Linked DNA regions of Homo sapiens: region 1 is linked to region 2. The links come from fine-mapping of genetic effects on plasma protein levels. Region 2 holds a variant in brackets. A gene starts in the other region. All regions are shown on their forward strands.

Region 1 (8,470 bases), not on the chromosome of region 2:
GGACTGGGACAGGCGGAAGAGGGGCGTTGTCAGTAGTGACTGCAACCCCCAGCTTAACCACCTTTCCCCCGGGTCTAAGAGGCACACTTGGATTTTTCACTTCCCGCCCCTCCCCCCGTTCTTCTTTCCTCAAATCCTTAAAAGCTCGCCTGCTCCTCATCAGCGCGGGTGACAGCGCCGAGGCGCCTGGCCAGGGAGGCTGTAACTCTTTCCAGTTCTCAGGAATTTAAACAAAGCTTTAGTCCGCGGTGGCTTCCAACTCCAACCTCAGCCCATTGGCGCTGAAGCCAAGTGAAATAAAAACCACAGGGTGAGAGGGGGAGGGCGGGGGGAGAATAGGAGGGGCCCCATCGGGAGGGCAGGCTCGTGGGGAGTGGCTTGCGTGGTAGAGACAGGAGGAGGGCGAGGGAGGAGAGAAGGGAGGTCCAGCCCTCATCCCGCCCCCATTCCCTGGGCAGGTGGGGTGGCGGGGGCGGGGCTAGGAGAATGGGAGCGGCTGATTGGAAGGGAGGCCCCCCCAAGACTTGAAATGTACCTCAAAATTAGGAGACACCCTAACCTCCAGCACCTAGACATCTTAAAAGCCCGCTCTCGGGGCCATCCCCAGTCCCCCAAAGCCAGCCAATGCCTCCAGGTCACTTTTAGCCAAAGAACCAAAAAGTCCGCAAATAGTCCAGAAGTTAGCTAACCACTCCCACCGCGCTAGCGGCTCCCCAGACGGCCACTAGGTGTCGGGCAACGCTAAGCAATGGGGCCGGGGCGGGGCCGACCTCACCGGCCCGACTACCTCTTTAAGAGGCTTGGGCTGCCCCATCCCTGGCTTTACTTTCCAGATCTAGAGGTGGGGGTCCGCACCCAGCAATAACCCGGGTCTTCCCGCTCCGGCTCCTGCCCCAGTAAGCGTTGGACCGGGAGACGCAGTGCTCAGCATCGGTCAGCAGGGGGCGCAAGGACCCCGCCCCGCCGAGTCCGCGCCAAAGTTTCTCATCCTCCACCCGCCCACGCTCCGCACCCCCTCCGCGGCTGCCCAGCACCCCCACGGCCCCAGCAACACTCTAGCCCGCAGAGAGGGCAATCTTTCCTTATGAATCATCCCACGGCCTTCCTGATTGCTTCTACATCTTGGGCTTCAAATGCCCCGCTCGGCGCCCCCATCCCATCTTCGACGTGCTTTCCTCACTCTGCACCCAGATCCCCACTTCCCCGGTTGCGCGCTCGGGATTCTCTCTTGCACCAACTCACGCCGCGCTCCACCCTCACCTCCCGCTCCCGGGGCGCGTTCAACCCCAACCTCGCCCCAGGGTGAGCTCCCTCCTGTCTCAGGGCGCCGAGGAAGAGCCCTCATCATCTCCCTTCCATTCCCGAGTCTCCGGATCATCCACGTCTCGTTTTAAGCCGCGGCCCCCGGGACCAAGCGCAAGGCGCGATATAGAGTATCCTTGCACTCCCAAAAGTTTGGGACTTACTGTCTTCGTCTTGGCCCTCGACTTGGCCTTCCTCTTGGCCGTGCGTCAGGAGGGCGGTGGCCGCTAAGAGGAGCAGGAGCCGGAGGTCCACAAAGCTGAACATGTCTAGACCCTAGACATGTAGACTCTTTGTGGCTGGGGAGGGGGTTAGCGTCCGCTCATGCGTGGCCTCACACTCCGCGTGCCTCCTGCTCCGACCCCGAGGAGAAACTCCCGTCTGCTCCGACGACTGGCCCGGGCCCCTTTTATACTGTCCTGATGGAGAGCAGGGAGGAACCCTGCCCCTCGGAGAGGGGGAGCCGGCCGCCCGTGCCCCAGCCAATCAGAGCTGCCTGGCCCGGCCCCCAATTTGGGAGTTGGAATGGAGAGGGGGAGGAGGAGGGAAGGGAGTCCACCCCACATCTCCCCTCTTCGCAGCTCTGCCTCCCCAGCCCCCCAGCCCAGCCTGGGCCAGAGGTGCTGTGGTAGGGGTGCAGCTGGGTCCTCAGAATGGCGTGGGCTAACCAGTGGGTAGGGGTGCCCCTCTGCTCTCTTCCTGGGACCTCCAATCTAGAAGAAGTGGAACTGGGGAACTGGGGAGCTGGGTGGGGAGACTTCCAAAGGTGGAAGGGTTGGGGGTGTTGGGGAGGGGGTCCTCCTGGCTGTGCCCCAGTCACCCTCTGATATCCTGGCAAGAGCTAAGGGAGGGGCATAAAGAGGCATGCTGAGGACCTCTCCAAAACAGAGGAAGCTGGGAATTAAAAAGATGTGCCTGTTTGGGGGTGTCTTCTGGTGTGGCTAGGGGATGGAGCTTAGGAATATTTGGGGAACAATTTACAGATTCCTTTCTAGACATTAAGAATCAGATATCTGAGGGAGGGGTGCAGGCAAGGGAGTTTTAATTTTGAGGATGTCAATTCTTCTGCTGTGCTCCAGAACAGAATCAAATGCCTTCCTCCAAACCCTAGGCATGATTGAGAGATGGAGTGGGGAGGCTGAGGTGCAGGGTGAGAAACATGACTAGGTGGCCTCTGCAGAAGAAAGCTTTGGTGGTTGGGTGATGGAGCAGCCAAGGTAGGGGTGGGGGATTCTAGGGACACAGAGGTGGGGATTGGGGCTTGCAATCCCCTAAAAATTCATCCCCCAAACTCTTCCACCCCAGAGTTGGGAAGTATTTTTAGTGGGAGGCCTGTGATCATTGGTGACTTAGAGAAGAGTTTTGTTTGCCATGGCTGTGGCCAGGGGCTGCTTAGAGACCCTCCTTCCCAGCACAGTCAAACCAGAGAGAACCTGGGTGGAGGGAGGGCACTTAGCTAAAGGGGTGTCTTTCTGGGAGCTGCATAAAGCCCCTTCTCCAGTTGTACCTGGACTCAGTGTTGGGGATGTATGGGATATTTTGGGTGTCTGGGTGAAACTTTCCTTTGGGGGTGTGGGATGGGCTGCAGAGGATGATTGACTTTGTTTTAGGGGCTACTTCCCACTGCCTCATCTCTTTCTTGAAAATCCCGGTCATTGCTCTATGCCTTAGGAACCAGAGAGAATCATCTGTACACTCTGAAAGGGTCTGGGGACCCGAAGGACAGCAGGCTATATCTAAGGAAGATGGCTCTAGAACTCCACGTCCTTTCTTCCTCCATGTCCCATTCCCCCAACAAGGCTCTGCCTCAACCCCAATCTACCTCGTCCTGAGAAACTCTGTAGGGCTGAGAGAAGGCCTGGGGGTCTCCTTGCAGTGCCCTGTTCATTTCTCTCCCTCCTGTGCAGCTCCCCACCCCGGGTGCTCCAGAGCTGCAAACGTGGAAGCGGGGAGTCCCGCCTCCCCCAAACCATCCAAGATTCCATTGCCTCCCCCCGCCCCTCTCCACGCCCTCCCCCAGCTGGTTTTGTGCAACGAAGGCAAAGGGGAAAAAAAAGGAACAGAAGGGGAGGGAGCCACGTCGGCTGGCCGGCTGGCCGTGGGCAGCCAGGATGAGCGGTGCGGGTGGGGCAGCAGAGGGAGACTGCAGGGGCTATAATTAAAGGGAAAATATAGAGTTTCCAGAGAGGCAGGGCTGGAGACAGCAATGGAGGGATGGACCTTCATCAATTATCCCGACCATGTGGCAGCAACTTGTGGCCCAGGGTCTGCCCCCGCCTAGTGCCAGCGACTGCAGGGCAGGACTAGGGGGCTGAGGTGCTGAGATGGCAGTTCTTGAACCCACCAAAGTCCTGCCCCCTACTGTGGGTCAGTTCCAAGAGAACCCCTCCCTAATAGGCGACAGGGGTCCTGTTTTTGGAGGGAACAGACATTTAGAGTGGTGGTCTAGGGCAGGGTGCCGCAGGGCTTGGTAGTATGAGGGTTAGTGACCTGTCCACTTCCTTGCTTCTTGGGTTTTCGTAGTAAGAAGGGCTCCTGCCTGCAGCTCCCCGCCCCTCCCCATATGTTTCCCATCCAGGCTTTCCCACGCCCATCTTAAAGAAGAGTTGAAACCTCCAAGGTGTGAATTGGGGGTTGCTACATCATGGGCCTGGGGTTCTGAAGGATATTTGGGGATCCCTGGCTTTGGAGTTTTGTGTGCCTGGCGTGTGACAGCCACCACCCCAATGTCCAGTTCCAGGCCTTCCTCCCAGGGGCCGAGGCAGACAGTTTCCAAGCATCCTTTACACGTGGCATGGAGCTGAGGCTCAAGGCCTCCCCTGCCACTCTTCGACTTAAAACGCTTGGCGGGTGCCCAGGCTGAAGATGTGTCTTTAATTTCTGCAGTATGACAGTGAGAGGAAGAATGTGCTTGGGGTCTCCTCCCAGCCTGGCTGGGCCTTCCTGGCCAGGATTGAGGGCTGCAGACTGGGGGGATGGGGGGTGGGAGGAGGAGGGAGCTTGTGCCTGTGAGAGGAGGAGACGCCACCTCATCTTTAGGAAACTCTGAAGCTCTGGCTTCTTGTGGAATGTAAGACTTTGTCCGGCACTTAAAGTGGGGGGGAGCAAAAGCCAAAATCTCCTCCCCACACCCCCAAGAAATGGTAAAGTCATCAGCAGTTAGGGAAAAAAAATTCCTTAAGAAGAAAAACAGAAAGAGGAAAGTGCTGAGCTTGAGTTCTCTCCTTCTCCAAATTTCCCCAAGTGCCCCCCTCCAACACCAAAGAAGGAGGGAAAAGGCCCCCACCCTCAGAGCTCCTCAGGTGCCCCATCTGGACTCCATGGTATGGGACAAAGGAGGAGAACACACCTGGAAGAGGTAGCCCAGGTGTTGTGCACCTGGTGGGGGGCATGCACCCCTGCCCTGCACATCGGGGTCACCCTTTCCAGCTGCTGCAGCCCCCAGTTGAGGTTCTGTTGCTCTTCCCCCAACTCCAATTCTCCAGAACGCTTCTCTGCTCCCACCTCTAGCCCTAGACTGATGATAAAGAGGGGGTTCCTAGGAGAGGGTCTGAGGAGACAGAAGGGCGGGGTCTAAGAGTGGGGGTGCAGTGAAGACCCCAGGATGAAGCTCTCCATGAGTCTCTATCATGGAGCCCTGCACAGTTCCTGTTGAGGGAGCCTGGAGCAGAGTCTGGGGATAGACCCCGGGTGTGTGCAGGCCCTTCTTCTTCCCTCGCTTTAGCATTGCACAGTCGGAGCCCTTTGCTAGGTTCCTCAGCTTCCAGGTACAGCTCTGCTCTTCTATGCCTTAGCCCCAAACCCAAGTCCTCCAGCCTCCTAGGATTTCCCTCTCTCCCTTCCTCCCTCCTTCCTTCCTTTCCAGGGTTAGGGGGAAGATGATGAAGTAGGTTTTGTCCATGCTGAGTGTTTGAAGCCTGTGAGACATCCAATTAGAAATACGGAGGAAACCCTTGGGCACTTGGGTCAGGAGTTCAGAGGAGAGACAAATGTGGGTCCCAGGATGATGGTAACTGAAGCTGGGGTTGTGGATGGTGTTGTCTCAGAGAAAGCATGGAGGGAGGGAGTGTGGAGGGGCTGGCACTGAGCCTCGGGGACCCTCAGGGTGTAAGGGCTGGGTGGAGGAGGAGGAGATAGGGCAAGAGTGGCCAGAGAAGGAGGGCTGGGTGAGAGGGATTGGGGGGTCATGAGTGCAGAGGAAAGAGATGGTACTAGAAGGAAGGAGAGTTATATGCTGCAGAGAGAACTAGTATGGTAAGGAGTAAAATGTTCCCTGGACTTAGCAGAATGGTGGTGACTGATCCCCGCAGCGTGAGCTGCTGTGGTGGAGAGATGGACAAGGAAGCCGGACTGGAGTGGGCTAAGGAGTGTGTGGGAGGCCAGGAAGCAAGGTCAGAGGGCAGCGACTGGGAGGAGGAGTCTGGCTGTGGCAGGAGTCTAGAGAGGCATCTGTCCCCTGCTCTTTCTCTTTCTTCCCAGCCCGGATCCTGCGTTCCTTTCAGGCCCCTGCATCCCTCCTCTGTCTTCCAAGTTTCTTCGCTGCTTTCTCCATCCCCCTCTGTCTCCAGAGCTCCTTTTCTGGATCTCATTTGCCTCTTTTGCTCTCCTTCCCCCTTTCCTTTTCTTTCCAGGTGACCCGAGCCCTCAAATGTCCATAGCCAGGCCCAGCCTCCCCCTCATTCTCCCCTAGAACAAGCCCTCATTCCAGGCTCTTGAAGATGAACTTTGTTTTCTAGTCCTGGACGGATCCCACCCCATTCTCTGACCGCTGCCTCCACCACCCCCACCCCAGTCCTAGGAGGAGAACTTGGGAGCTGGAGAGAGAAGGGCTGGGGGTATGGCCCCAGGTGACACGAGGTCTGTCATGGCCCCAGCTCCCAAGCCCTCTCCAGCCACCCCACCAGGTCCCAGCCAGGCCCCAGCTGAGAATAATGCACTGGATGGGGGATGTTGTTGAGTTAGGGGACCCCAGTTCTCACTGCTGCTCTCTGGTAGTCAGAAGTGAGGGGTCAGCCCCATCTTTCCTGCTGGAGTGAGCTCCCAGCTGGGTAGCTGGCAGCTTTTCTGTCATATCCCTCCCTGCTCCTGATGTCTGGAGGCAGTGTAGTTCTTCTTAAAAGTTGGCTTGGCAGGGCGCGGTGGCTCACACCTGTAATCCCAACATTTTGGGAGGCTGAGGCAGTCGGATCACCTGAGGTCGAGAGTTTGAGACCCCAGCCTAGCCAACATGGTGAAACTCCATCTCTACTAAAAATACAAAAATTAGCCCGGCATGGCGGCATGGGCCTGTAGTACCAGCTACTTGGGAGGCTGAGGCAGGAGAATCACTTGAACCCAGGAGGCGGGGGTTGCAGTGAACCGAGATCACACCATTGCACTCCAGCCTGGGCAAAAAAGCGAAACTCTCTCTCTCAAAAAAAAAAAAAGAAAGAAAGAAAGAAAGAGAAAAGAAAAAAAAAAGAGAAAGTTGGCCCCATGAATTGATTGAATATTTACACCTTTCTGGGTTGGTTCAATTCCGTGCCTATTTTATCCCATTTGCTTTTCTCCATTCCTTTCTTCCTTTCTTTCTTCTATTCATTTACCTTTTCTCTCCCCCACCCCCAACCTCTCTCCCTTCAAATTTTTCTCTTCATGCGTTTTTCTTCCTTTTCTTAGTTTTTTTTTTCCTTTCCTTTTCTTTCCTCGGTCTCTGACCCGTTGTCCCACCTCTCCACCCACATACTTTTTTCCCCCTCCCTCTTTTCCTCTCTTATTCTCTTCCGGTATCTCCTCTTCCCCAGTCCCCGGTTCTCTGGTGCCCATCCTGGGGTATGGCGCTCTGCCGGGTCTCCTCATGCTGTAGGCGGGCGTGCAGCCTTCGTGAGCTGCTCCAGGGGAGAAAGGGCAGCAGCCATAGGGGGCGTGGCCGGGGGGCGGGTGGTGCAGGGCTCGCATCACAGCCAGATGTCTGGTTGCCGTGTTGTGTTTGGGAGATAAATGCCAGGGTTCCTTTGAATCCTGAATTTAAATAAAAGAAGGGGGGTGCTGAGGAGAAGCCTCTGTTGGGCAGAGGTACCTTCCAGATCTTGATCTCCTTCCTTGATACCCACCCCCCACAACCCCCACCCCAGGGAAGTTTTGGCCACCGATGTCTTCTGTCTTCTGCTTCTGCCCCAGCCACGAGTTCTTCCTCCTGGCAAACTTGAGATTCTGGAGTTTCAGGGCGGGGTGTTGGGCAGGGGTCCTGGCAGGGGCCCCTTTGGACAGTCTGGCTCGGACACAGAAAGGATCCTGTATGGATAACATGACCTTGCCTTCTTCCCAAAAGCCACCCCCACCCCATTTTGCTAAGGAGCTACATTCATTTGCTGATAAATTCATGCAACAATAGTCACGTGCCAGGCACTTTGCTGGGTACTGGGCATTCAATGGTGAGCAGCACAGACCCTGTGTCTGCCTGATGGAGTTTGTGTCTGGTAAAGACACAGACAGCAATGAAATCACATGAATAAACGTGGAGGTGCAACCATTAAGGTTACTAAGAAGAAGAATGCAGAGCTTTGAATGGGCAGACATGGCAGAGGGTCTGCTCTAGTCCTGGAGCCCTAGGAAGGCTTCCCTGGGTAGGCTGATGGGAAAAGGATAGGAGGCAGGGTGGATAGTGATGGGACCACATATGCAAAGGCAGGAGGGGGCATGGCGAGTGCTGGATGCCCAAGGAATTCAGGGAAGGCCAGTGTGGCTGGAGCACCACAGGCAAAGGCTGGGCGGGCCAGAGAAGCCCCATCACAGGTGTAGTTTGCCTCCTTTCAGCTATGGGCCCCAGCAGAGGGCCTGACGCAGGGGAGGGTCACAATCAGGTCTGCATTTGTAAAAGAAAGCCATGGGCACTCCATGGAGTAGGTACCTGCGGGAGGAGGGCTGTGGTCAAAGGTGGAGGAGCAGCTGAGAGGCTGCTATACTTGCCCAGGTGAGGGGCTTGGATCCGGTAGGTGGGAATGGAGACAGAGAGAAGAGGATGGGCTTGAGAGCCCTTTGGGAAGCAAAATTTACAGGTGCTGGGGTTGGATTGGATGTGGGGTGGGGTTGGTGAGGAACAGGGATGATCCCGGGCTTCTGGCTGGGCAAGGACCCTGCTTGGGGGACAATATGCTGAGTTTGGTGCCTGTTGCCGGCCCTGTAGTTG
Region 2 (11,050 bases):
TCCAACAAAGGTGTAATCCAGAATCTATAAGGAACTTAAACAATTGAACAAGCAAAAAACAAATAACCCTGTTAAAAAATGGGCATAAAACATGAACAGACACTTCTCAAAAGAAGACATACAATCAGGCAACAAACTTGAAAAAATGTTCAACATCACTAATCATTAGAGAAATGCAAATCCAAACCAAAATGAGATACTATCTTACACCAGTCAGAATGGCTGTTATTAAAAAGTCAAATTACAGATATTGCCAGGACTGCAGAGAAAGGTGAACACTTATACACTGTTGGTGGGAATGTAAATTAGTTCATCCACTGTGGAAAGCATTTGGGAGATTTCTCAAAGAACTAAAAACAGAACTCCCATTCCACCCAGCAATCCCATTACTAAGTATACACCCAAAGGAAAACAAATCATTCTACCAAAACGTCATATGCACTTGCATGTTCACCCCAGCACCATTCACACTACCAAAGACGTGGACTCAACCTAGATGCCCATCAGTGATGGACTGGATAAAGAAAATAGTATGTATATACCATGGAATACTATGCAACCATGAAAAAGAACAAAATCATGTCCTTTGTAGCAACACGGATACCCCAGCTGGACACTAACATCATAAGTGAATTAACACGGGAGCAGAAAACCAAATACCACATGTTCTTACATACATATGGGAGCTAAACACTGAATACACATGGACACAAAGATGAAAACAATACACATTGGGGATGACTAGAGGGAGGGTGCGAGTGTTGGAAAACTATCAGATACTATGCTCACTACATGAGTGACAGGATCAAAGAAGACGAAGTCTTCCTGCATCAGGGTGGGCTCTAAATCCAATTACTGGTGTTCCTATAAGACACAAAGAAAGGAATAAGGGAATGTGAGGATGGAGGCAGGGGTTGGAGTGATGCAGCTAAAAGCCAAGGAACACCAAGGATGTCTGGAAGCCACTAGAAGCTGAAACGAGCAGCTTTGGAGGGAGTAGGGCCTGGCCAACACCTCGACTTCAGATTCTAGCCTCCTGAACTACAGGAGAATAAATTTATATTGTTTTAAGGCACACAGTTTGTGGTAATTTGTCATGGCAACTCTGGGAAACTAATCCAATAGCTAAAAAAAAAAAACCCTGGGAGCTGGGTCTTGGATCAAAAAAGATTAATCATTTGTTTTCAAATATCAATTCCTGTCCCCTCTGTTCTCAGGGAATTTTATAACCAGTTTCTTATTTCTGTAGCTGCCAAGAGAGTAGAACAGAGGAGAATCTCTCGTTTTACATTAAAATGTCGTGAGATGCAATGTAAAGTAATGTGATATGATGTAATGTCATATCCTAAAGTCAGGGTTAAATTCCACCTAAATGCTTCTAGTAATGGGAACGATGAAGCTTTATTGAGTGCTTCCTGTGTGAACAGAACTGTATAACTCATCAGCCTTCACAACAACCTTATGATAGGGTAGGTGTTATTATTATTATTATTATTATTATTGGAGATGGAGTCTCGTTCTGTCGCCCAGGCTGGAGTACAGTAGTGTGATCTCTGCTCACTGCAACCTCCGCCTCCTGGGTTCAAGCAATTCTCCTGCCTTGGCCTCCCAAGTAGCTGGGACTACAGGCGCACACCCCATGCCTGGCTAATTTTTTGTATTTTAGTAGAGACGGGGTTTCACTGTGTTGCCCAGGCTTTCTCGATCTCCTGAGCTCAGGCAATCCGCCCGCCTTGGCCTCCCAAAGTGCTAGGATTACAGGCATGAGCCACCGTGCCCAGCTCAGGTCCTATTATTATTACTATTTGACAGACGAGGACACTGAACCTTGTCTCCAAAGGCACATGGCTGGTAAATGGTCAAAGACAGGATTTGACCAAGAAACTGACTCCAGAGCTCGTGCTCCTAACCACTACGTTATCTATATGCCTCGTAAACATGGGAATGCCACGCAAAATGATTCTTTAAAAAACAACAAAAAACTATTCTTTCTGTTTGCTGAAATATAATATGGGCAAGTTAAGATCTGGGGAAAAAATCTCAATTCATAAAGCGGCAGAGCAGACGCATATGCATAGAAAACTATCCACAAGAAAATAAATCAGCAGAAGTATGTCATGTCTTAATTTTTTTAAAAGCAACATTTTTCATTTTTCAACGTTGTGGTGCTGCCACCATTACACACACACAGCCCTCCAAAAAGAATCTTGACCTAAACTTTATAATTTATACAAAAAAGAATTCACAATGAGTCATAGATTTATGCATTCAAATGTAAAATGTAAAACAATACTACTTTTAGAAGGAAACAGGATATAGGAAAGGAATTTTTTTTATTACCATTCTTTTTCTTTTTTTTTTTTTTGAACATACAAAAAGCTATACAAAATGATTCTTTTATGCAGATAAAAATATCCCAGACACTCTCTTCACTCCTCACATCCTTACCCAGTGGCCTAGAGCATATCTCAAATGAGCCTGGTAGATCATTTGATCACAACTCAAGTCTTGGTGTCCAGTTAACCTTTTTTGAGACTGTTGTTATGTACTCAGCCATGACATTGTCTTCCTTAAGGTGCATGGGTTAGGTGACACATCAAATCATTTTTACCTTTAAGGAATTAAGATGAATATTGGTGAAGTAAACTTGCCAGGGCCACCCTTCTGGTTTTCCTAACTTCCCTAACTTTTAAAAATCCTTCACTCTTTCCCTTTCATCTACAGGATAAAATTCAAACTCCTTGGTATGTTTTATACCAGAGGTTGGTAAACTTTTTCTGTAAAGGATCACAGAGTATATATTTTAGGCTGGCCATAGGGTTTCTGTCCACTGCTCACCTTTGTAGTAAAGAATGAGGAAGCAGGCCGGGCATGGTGGCTCATGCCTGTAATCCCAGCACTTTGGGAGGCCAAGGCGGGTGGATCACCTGAGGTCAGGAGTTCAAGACCAGCCTGGCTAACGTGGTGAAACCCTGTCTCCACTAAAAATACAAAAAATTAGCTGGGTGTGGTGGCATGTACCTGTAGTCCCAGCTACTTGGGAAGCTGAGGCAAGAGAATTGCTTGAACCCGGGAGGCGGAGGTTGCAGTGAGCAGAGATTGCACCACTGCACTCTAGGCTGGGCGACAGAGTGAGACTCTCTATCAAAAAAACAAAAAAAAAACACCACCACCACCACCAAAAAGAATGAGGAAGCCGCCATAAACAATATGTAAAAGAATGGACACAGCTGTGTTTCAATAAAGCTTTATTTACGAAAACAACTAGCGAGCCAGATTTGACTTGAGGGCCATAGTTTGTCTACCCCTGCAGTTCTTCAAAAGCTGCTGCACCCTAAATTGTATACTCCATCTTCAGTCACACTGAAGTTCTTATACTTTTCAAATTCACATGCTGTTTTAATTATTTGAGCCTCTGCATAGTCTATATGTTTTGTTTGCATGCCTTTCTCCATCTTTTCTCATTCCATTATCAGGTTAGCAAACTCCCATGGACAGCAGACCATTCCATATGAGCTACTGGCAACACTTACCCCATTGCATTGTAACTATTCATTAATTGACCTGTAATTAACCATTGATGTGATCACAGCTTACTGATCATAGTACCTCAAGGAACATACTTGCTTGCTGCATACTTCCAGCCAGTGCTGTCACTTTGTATTACATCAATCACACCCTGTTGTAGTGTGTATGTTTCTGCTTGCATATTTTCTTTGGCTGCTAGGAATCCCAGAGCCAAAATAGAGGCTTCATGTCAGCCACCATAGAAGACTTTACAACATGCACATGTGTGTTTCTCTCCTCTATCCTAGGCCACCTCCTTATTCGGACATATTTCCTGTAGATCTGATATTTTGTTTGCATTTTGCTATTTTATGTGGGCATTGCTTAAAAGCTACCTCAAACATTTGTATAAAAAGGCAGGATTCATTCATTCATTTCTTCATCTGCAACTAAGTCATATTTCCCCTTGATCACTTTTTGTACTTTTTCAAAGTAGAAACACTCTGTATTTTTACCTAGAACCTAGTGATGTACTTAGTATATTGATGACATTATTTCAGGAATAATTGTGAAATAAAATGAATAATAATAGCCAGAAGAGAAATGGATAAATAATAAAATTTGCTAATTTGAGGCTTATCTATATATTATTAAATCCAAAGGTAACAGCTATAATTGTGTAGAACTTACACTAATACAAGTTTTTTGAGGAAAGGCATTTTATCTCTGACATGGTTGAAGACTGTTCATGATGTGGTGATAATAAAAAGTAACCATCTCTTAATTGGCTTTATTATCGTTTTCAAATTCTCCACAGAAAATGTACACCTACTCCCCCCCACCACACACACAGGCATGGGTGTGCGCGCACACACACACACACACACACACATACACACCAGATATTCAGAAACATCATTGCTAGAACCTAAACTGGTGGATTAAAACTTCATATTTGGAAGTTTCAAGTTAAAAATACAGGAAAGTGGTATCCACATTGCTTTCTGGGATTCATTTTTCCTTTATGTTTTAATAAATAAATGTCTCCTCACATAACAGCTAACCATCTTCAAGTGTCACATCTTCAACCCTTTGGTATGCTAATACACTTAGGTTGACTTTATGGTGTCAGAAATGTTCTAATATTACAGTTTAGCTCTAGACTTGGATGCTTGATCCTTGCTCAGGTAAGATGGCTTTCTGAATTCAGAAGAAAAATGAGATATATAGATCAAAACAAATCGGCACGCAAAAACCATTCTCTAAATGAGTCATGGGAAATGAAGCTTGTTGACTAGAACTTGCTTTATTAAGACTGAAATTAAGATTTACATCCAGAAGTAGGTTTGATGAGAGCCACTAGAACTGGCATGCTTTGAGAATGACAGCAGAACAACCTTTGTGTTTATCTTGCAAAGCAAATGAACTTCAGTTAAATGGAGGCCAGAGAGGGATGCTGAATGTGTTCATCTGAATATCTGAGGTTTG[A/G]AAAAAATCTCCTTCTTGTTTGAACCATATCAGTTCATTTTCTAGCCCTGGTACATATAAAGGACCTATGCCACGATTAACATTCAAGAACTGCTTAGCCCTCCAGCATGTTCATGTCAACACCTGTAGAATACTGTAAATGTGGAGGGGGCGCAGATTCAATTCAAAGGAATTCAGTGTGTTTCCCAAGGATCTATTATGACTAGACTCAATGTGTTGATGTGACCTACTCTAGGACAGATTTTAGTTATTGCTTACCTATTGGCTTTCATTCCATTAAAAAAAATCTGGATCACGGCTTCCCTGGTTGTCATTTGCTTCTTTCCTTCTCCTCTAGACAACAGTCCAAATAACTATGTGCTCAGGTAAGTTGGTTTCATTTAATTGAACCAGATAGTGGAGGCAATTGTAGTCATTTTATATAACTTTTGCATCTAAAGAAGCCATTTAGAAATATTCAGGTACAAATCCTACAGGCCATCCCCACTCTGTGCCTATTGAACCTTCGTGAGATTGTCATGCTCCCAGGCTTTAATGGATACAGTTGAGGATCACACGCTCTTAGTATGCCCAGAAGGATCATTGAAATTGGGCTGTAGTAAACACCTCTTGTTAGCGTTAGAGGTACCCTCATCCTGACCCAGTGAGCCTTCCCCACTGGCCTCTCTCCTCCAGCAGATAACAAGATGTGGCATGCACAATGGAAGCTTCCTTTTCTCTTGGCAGATCCTGAATGGAGCCAAGGGGAACAGTTGCAAAACAGAAAATTGACTATGATGGAAGACTCTTTGGTGCTACATCTGATATGATTAACAATTTATTTTGGCAACACCCAGGATGGGTTTCATATGGTTTTCCTGAATTCAACAGGATTCCTGCCAGCAGAATCAGGAACACTAAGAAATAATCCAGGCTGAGGGAGAAAAAAAACAACATGCCATCTTGCAAAGTGTTTCATAGCGTTGACTCTGTGATCTGGAAAACAGCCATTGCTCTCAATCCCTCTATTTCCAACTGCTCATCAACTATTGTCTTCCCAGTCTTGGGTTGATAGATGGGCTTATAATTAGCATGGTAGATGGCCCAGAGGAGAAACCATTGTAAGAAGGGAGATGAAAGATGTGGCAGCCAAATATTTTTCAATACACAAATATTCTTAAAATATGGATGTTCTATCCAAGTTATCATCTGTAAGAAACACAATTGCTACATATTGTGGACTTTCAGAGTTAACTGCTCTTACAGGAATCTACTTTTAGGCTGAAAGAAAGACTATTCTGCTGTACAGAAATGCTTCTCTCCCAGAATTGAAGCTTCTATCTCTGCAGAAGGACTTCTACTAACATAATATTCTTGGGTTTTCTCTGCTTTCCAACCTTTTTTCTTCCTCAGGGTGGGTTTGAAGGAGGACCTGGGCATGCATTCCTGAGCTTCTTCCTCTTCTGTTTCTCCTGGGAGTGAGCCCACCTGCAGAGAGAATAAGTCTCCATTGCTCCCAAACATGGGAGAAGCCTGCTGGGGAGACCTGGCCATGACTAGATGTGTGTCTACAGTAGGAAGCCCACCTGCTTGTACCTATAAGGCATGTTCTAAAATATTAGCATTAGGAAGCCACTTATTTGTACCTATTAGCCATGTTCATAATATTAACATCATCAATAATAAGGGTGATGTTTGGGTCCTGTTTTATTTCTCAATTGGTTCAAAATATAGGCAAGGGCAGGGCACAGTGGCCCATGCCTGTAATCCCGGCACGTTGGGAGGCCGAGGCAGGTGGATCACCTGAGGTCAGGAATTCGAGACCAGCCTGGCCAACATGGTGAAATTCTGTCTCCACTAAAAATACAAAAATTAGCCGGGCATGGTGGTGTGCACCTGTAGTCCCAGCTATTTGGGAGGCTGAGGCATAAGAATCGCTTAAACCCAGGAGGCAGAGGTTGCAGTGAGCTGAGATTTTGCCATTGCAATCCAGCCTGGGTGACACAGACAGACTCTGTCTCTAAAAACAAAACAAAACAAAACAAAAACATAGGCAAGGAAAAAAGGTGTTAATTAGTGGTTCCCGCTATGATTAGAATATTTGTCTCCTCCAAAACTCATGTTGAATTTCAATCCCCAGTGTGGCAGTGTTGAGAAATGTAGTCTTTAAGAGGTGATCGAATCATAAGGGTTCTGTCCTTGTGAATGAATTAATTCATTAATAGATTAATGGACTAATGGGTTAATGGATTCATGGGTTAACATGGGAGGGGAACTGGCGACTTTATAAGAAGAAGAAGAGAGGCCTGAGCGAGGATGTTAGCACGCCCAGCCCCCTTGCCACGTTATGCCCTGAGCCACGTCAGGACTCTTCAGAGATCTCCCCCCAGCAAGAGGGCGCTCACCAGATATGACCCCTCAACCTCAGACTTCTCAACCTCCATAACAGTAAGAAACAAATTCGTTTTCCTTATAAATTACTCAGCTTCAAATATTCTGTTATAAGCAACAGAAAACAGACTAATATAGGCCCCCTACAAGCCTCAACAGATGCTCAGCCAGTAGCCAATTTCATCTGATAGGAAATATGTTTTCACATTGTTTTCTACTTATCTTTCACGTTAGCATTTCCTTCACCTTGCACTGGATTAAAAGAAACATCTTGGTATTCAGCTTTGGACTTATGTAAACAAATAGGCTGCAGAATCATATGACTATGACATGGGACATCATTTGGCCTTGACATTTTGCCTTAGGCCTTGCACACTCCTCTTCATTCACTCAGAGGTCCAAGACTGTCCACATTTCCTTTTATTCTTCCTGTGGTGTACATTCTCAGGATTGTATTAGAGAATATTAAAGTGTCTAAGCCTGGCACAGTGGCAAACACCTGTAATCCCAGCTATTCCAGAGGCTGAGGTGGGAGGATCACTTGAGCTGAGGAGTTGGAGGCTGTAGTGTGCTGTGATTGAGACTGTGAATAGCCACTGTACTCCAGTAGGGCAACAGAGTGAGACCCCACCTCTAAAAAAAGATGGAAAAAAAAAATAAAAGCTTCTTTATCTGGATAGCAGTTAGATGGACTTGAAATTGGCAATGAGACTCTGCTTTGATCTTTAATTGCGAGGTCAGTCAAGAAGGGCATGGCCGTGATTAAATTGAATATTAAAACTAGAGAGAAGGAGAGAGATGCCAAGAAGGGAAAGTCAGCTTCTAACCCCCTTGATCTGCAGCTAAGAAGTTTGTAAATCAGTATTTGCAGAAGAATATTGTTGAGAGTTTACAGTATCAATGAGATACCAACAAATTAGGACATGTGTCCATGACCATAACACATAATCGATAAAGTAAGGCCCTAACATTAATTGTTCCCAAACTTTTTCATCCACATTATCAAATTTGATCCTTGCTCTGTGAGGTAGACAATATCATCCCCATTTTAAGAGTTTGGCAAACCGAGGCCCAGTGGGATAGAGTAACTTGCTCAAATTTCTCCAGCGTGTTAAAATCAGATTCAAACTGAAGGAGGTCAGGAAACGCCACCACAAAATACATTTTGGTATGCTGATTACTTCGAACTGGAGGGCACTTGGAGAACAGTGGTGCAGGCAGAGGTCTTCTCTGAGCTCTCCTTATCCGCCTAAAGACAGATCCTCCAAAAGGAACGCAACCGTTATTTCCTCTCTCTGGGAATCTTATCAACCAGGTAAGATTAATTTCAATCACAAGAAAAGAGACTACGGATTAACTCCATGCCCTGACGATAGCCTGTTCTTCTGAGGGGTGCAGAGTCTCGTAATCTGCATAACAAGACAAGCTTTGTTCACCTTGTATTTCCTCCCCTCACCTTCCCATTCCTTGTGTCTCCACCACCCACTAGAAGCCCCAGGCCTCTATTCCTTTCTGTAGCTCTGGATACTATATAAGCTTCAATCATCTGATCCTTCTTTGAAACTCATATTTTGTAGAACTCCCATGTGTATGTATGTAATTAACTATGGTTTTCCTTCTGTCAATCTGTCATATGTCCATTTAATTTGTAGCCCAGCCAAGGAACCTCATTCCTTGTGTCTCCACCACCCCCCAGAAGCCCCAAGCCTCTATTCTTTTCTGTGGTTCTGGATGCTATATAAGCATCAATCATCTGACCCTTTTTCGAGACATATTTTGTAGAACTCCCATGGGTATGCACATAATTAAATATGGTTTTCCTTCTGTTAATCTGTCATATGTCCATTTAATTTGTAGCCCAGCCAAGGAAACTGAAAGAGAGAAATTTTTCACTCCCCTACAAAACCTGTGTTTTCTTACTTGAAGTACGGTGGTCTTTTTACTCTATTACTACTGCCTCTCAGCCTATATACTTGAGAATAAACTGAAACATTAATATATTTTAAAAGGAGTAGATAAAACAGCTGGGCTTGACATAATTGAATTTTCTTATTGAATATATGGTGGACAACATAATGGATTTCATGACGTGATTTGAAAGGTGACTAACACTCCTTTGGTTCTGTGATGCACAACGATAAAAAAAGTAATGCAGGCCGGGTGTGGTGGCTTATGCCTGTAATCCCAACACTTTGGGAGGTTGAGGCAGGCAGATCACCTGAGGCCAGGAGTTTGAGACCCGCCTGGCCAACATGCTGGAACCCCATCTCTACTAAAAATACAAAAAATTAGCCAGGAGTGGTGGTGGGCACCTGTGGTCTCAGCTACTTGGGATGCTGAGGCAGGAGAATCGCTTGAACCCAGGACGCAGAGGTTGTAGTAAGTCAAGATTGCACCACTACACTCCAGCCTGGGTGACAGAGCGAGACTCTGTCTCAAAAAAAAAATAAAAAATAAAAAAATAAAAAAATAAAAAAAATAAAGAAAAGAGAAAAAGAAAAAGGAAAAGAAAATAATGGTGATGTAGTATCATTTGAAAGACATTAGGGCTTACTTCATAAATCTTTGTCATTCACATTTGAAAATTATACTGTTGAGGATATGTCTGTGTTGTGCATGGGTAGCTGAAACCTGATATTGGCCACGTTCCATTTTATCTACATTTAAGTGGGGATTAGACATTTGACCCCAATAAATGGAATCCTAGTGCTCTAGGGTACATAGAGGATATTCCAGAGCATTTGGTCGCTTAAGTGAAGAATCGTTTGTCTGAACTCTAATGAAAGAGAGAATGAGGTTTTGAGTGACACTGACTAGGTAGAGGCCTGGAAAGTAACTTGGTGGTTGTTGGTAATGAAGAGGAGGCCCAGCCTTAGGTACCAGAATGTCAGCAGGTACCCATAGCTAACACCTAATTAACTCCACATCTGTCCTCTGTTGTTCCTGGCCCTCTGCCCTTACTCCCACAATGCCTGAGGCTCTCCTCTGTATACCCCAGCATCTTAAACAATCCAGGCTCTCTCTGCTCTCCCCTGTCCATGCATCCTGAAAGTCCAAGCCTACCCTAAAACCCATGCACTAGCACCATCTCCTCATGGGACTGAGGACGGGACCTTCCAAGGGGGTAGTAATAGCCCCTGAAATGTACATAACTCTCAATGCCTTGTAAAGCCCTTTCATATATAATAGCTTATTTGATGTTCACAATTTATCCATGAAGCAGGCGAGGAATATTCTGATTCTGTTTTATGGACGTGAAAGTTGAGGTTCTCAGAAGTAAGGTAAGTGGCAGAACCACCACCATCTACCACATCTTTAGGATCCTTTCTCCTCTACAGTGATTCATAAACCTCTGTACCAAAGGCTCTTAAAAGTCCATGGGAATAACTCCACAATGATGATAAAATAAATTCCCCTCATTGTAAAGCAATTTTTTAAAAACCCATAAAATTATATTAAGTCTATTGAAGCTAACACTGTATTCAAATGCAATAAAATAACTATATAAATGCTTTGCTTAAAAGGACAGCACCCTAATTAAGAAGATTGTTAAAAGGATGGAGCATATGAATACATCTATTACACAGGATTTACTAGAACTCTTTGTACCCACAGCAATAAAGTGGGACCAGCTGTTGCCTGGAACACGGAAACAGCCTTATGAGGTAGAAACTGGATATTATAG

Direction of the effects. Positions count from the first base shown, and alleles are read on the strand shown. Strength reflects both the effect of a copy and how common the allele is.
In carriers of allele G in region 2, the plasma level of the protein whose gene starts at base 1,687 in region 1 tends to be lower than with A alone (weak association).

The links. PIP is the chance, under the fine-mapping model, that this variant and not a neighbour inherited with it causes the effect. Protein levels are from antibody-based Olink assays in UK Biobank. Linkage for the fine-mapping came from a reference panel and not from the study's own genotypes, which makes the PIPs less certain.
Region 1: it holds the start of COL1A1, and the variant in region 2 is fine-mapped to the plasma level of the COL1A1 protein (UK Biobank, PIP above 0.99).

The regions. Positions count from the first base shown.
Region 1 is chr17:50,199,945-50,208,414 of GRCh38, forward strand. It overlaps COL1A1 (collagen type I alpha 1 chain), which reads right to left and starts at 1,687. Exons shown (of 51, transcript NM_000088.4): 1 at 1,467-1,687; 2 at 1-3. The coding sequence starts at 1,569. RefSeq lists silencers at 282-331, 352-401, 902-951 and an enhancer at 5,780-6,281.
Region 2 is chr4:38,354,504-38,365,553 of GRCh38, forward strand. No RefSeq gene overlaps it. Among named protein-coding and RNA genes, the nearest start is that of LINC02513, 6.9 kb to the right of the region's middle. RefSeq lists a silencer at 3,033-3,257. The variant A/G (reference allele first, on the strand shown) is at 4,996.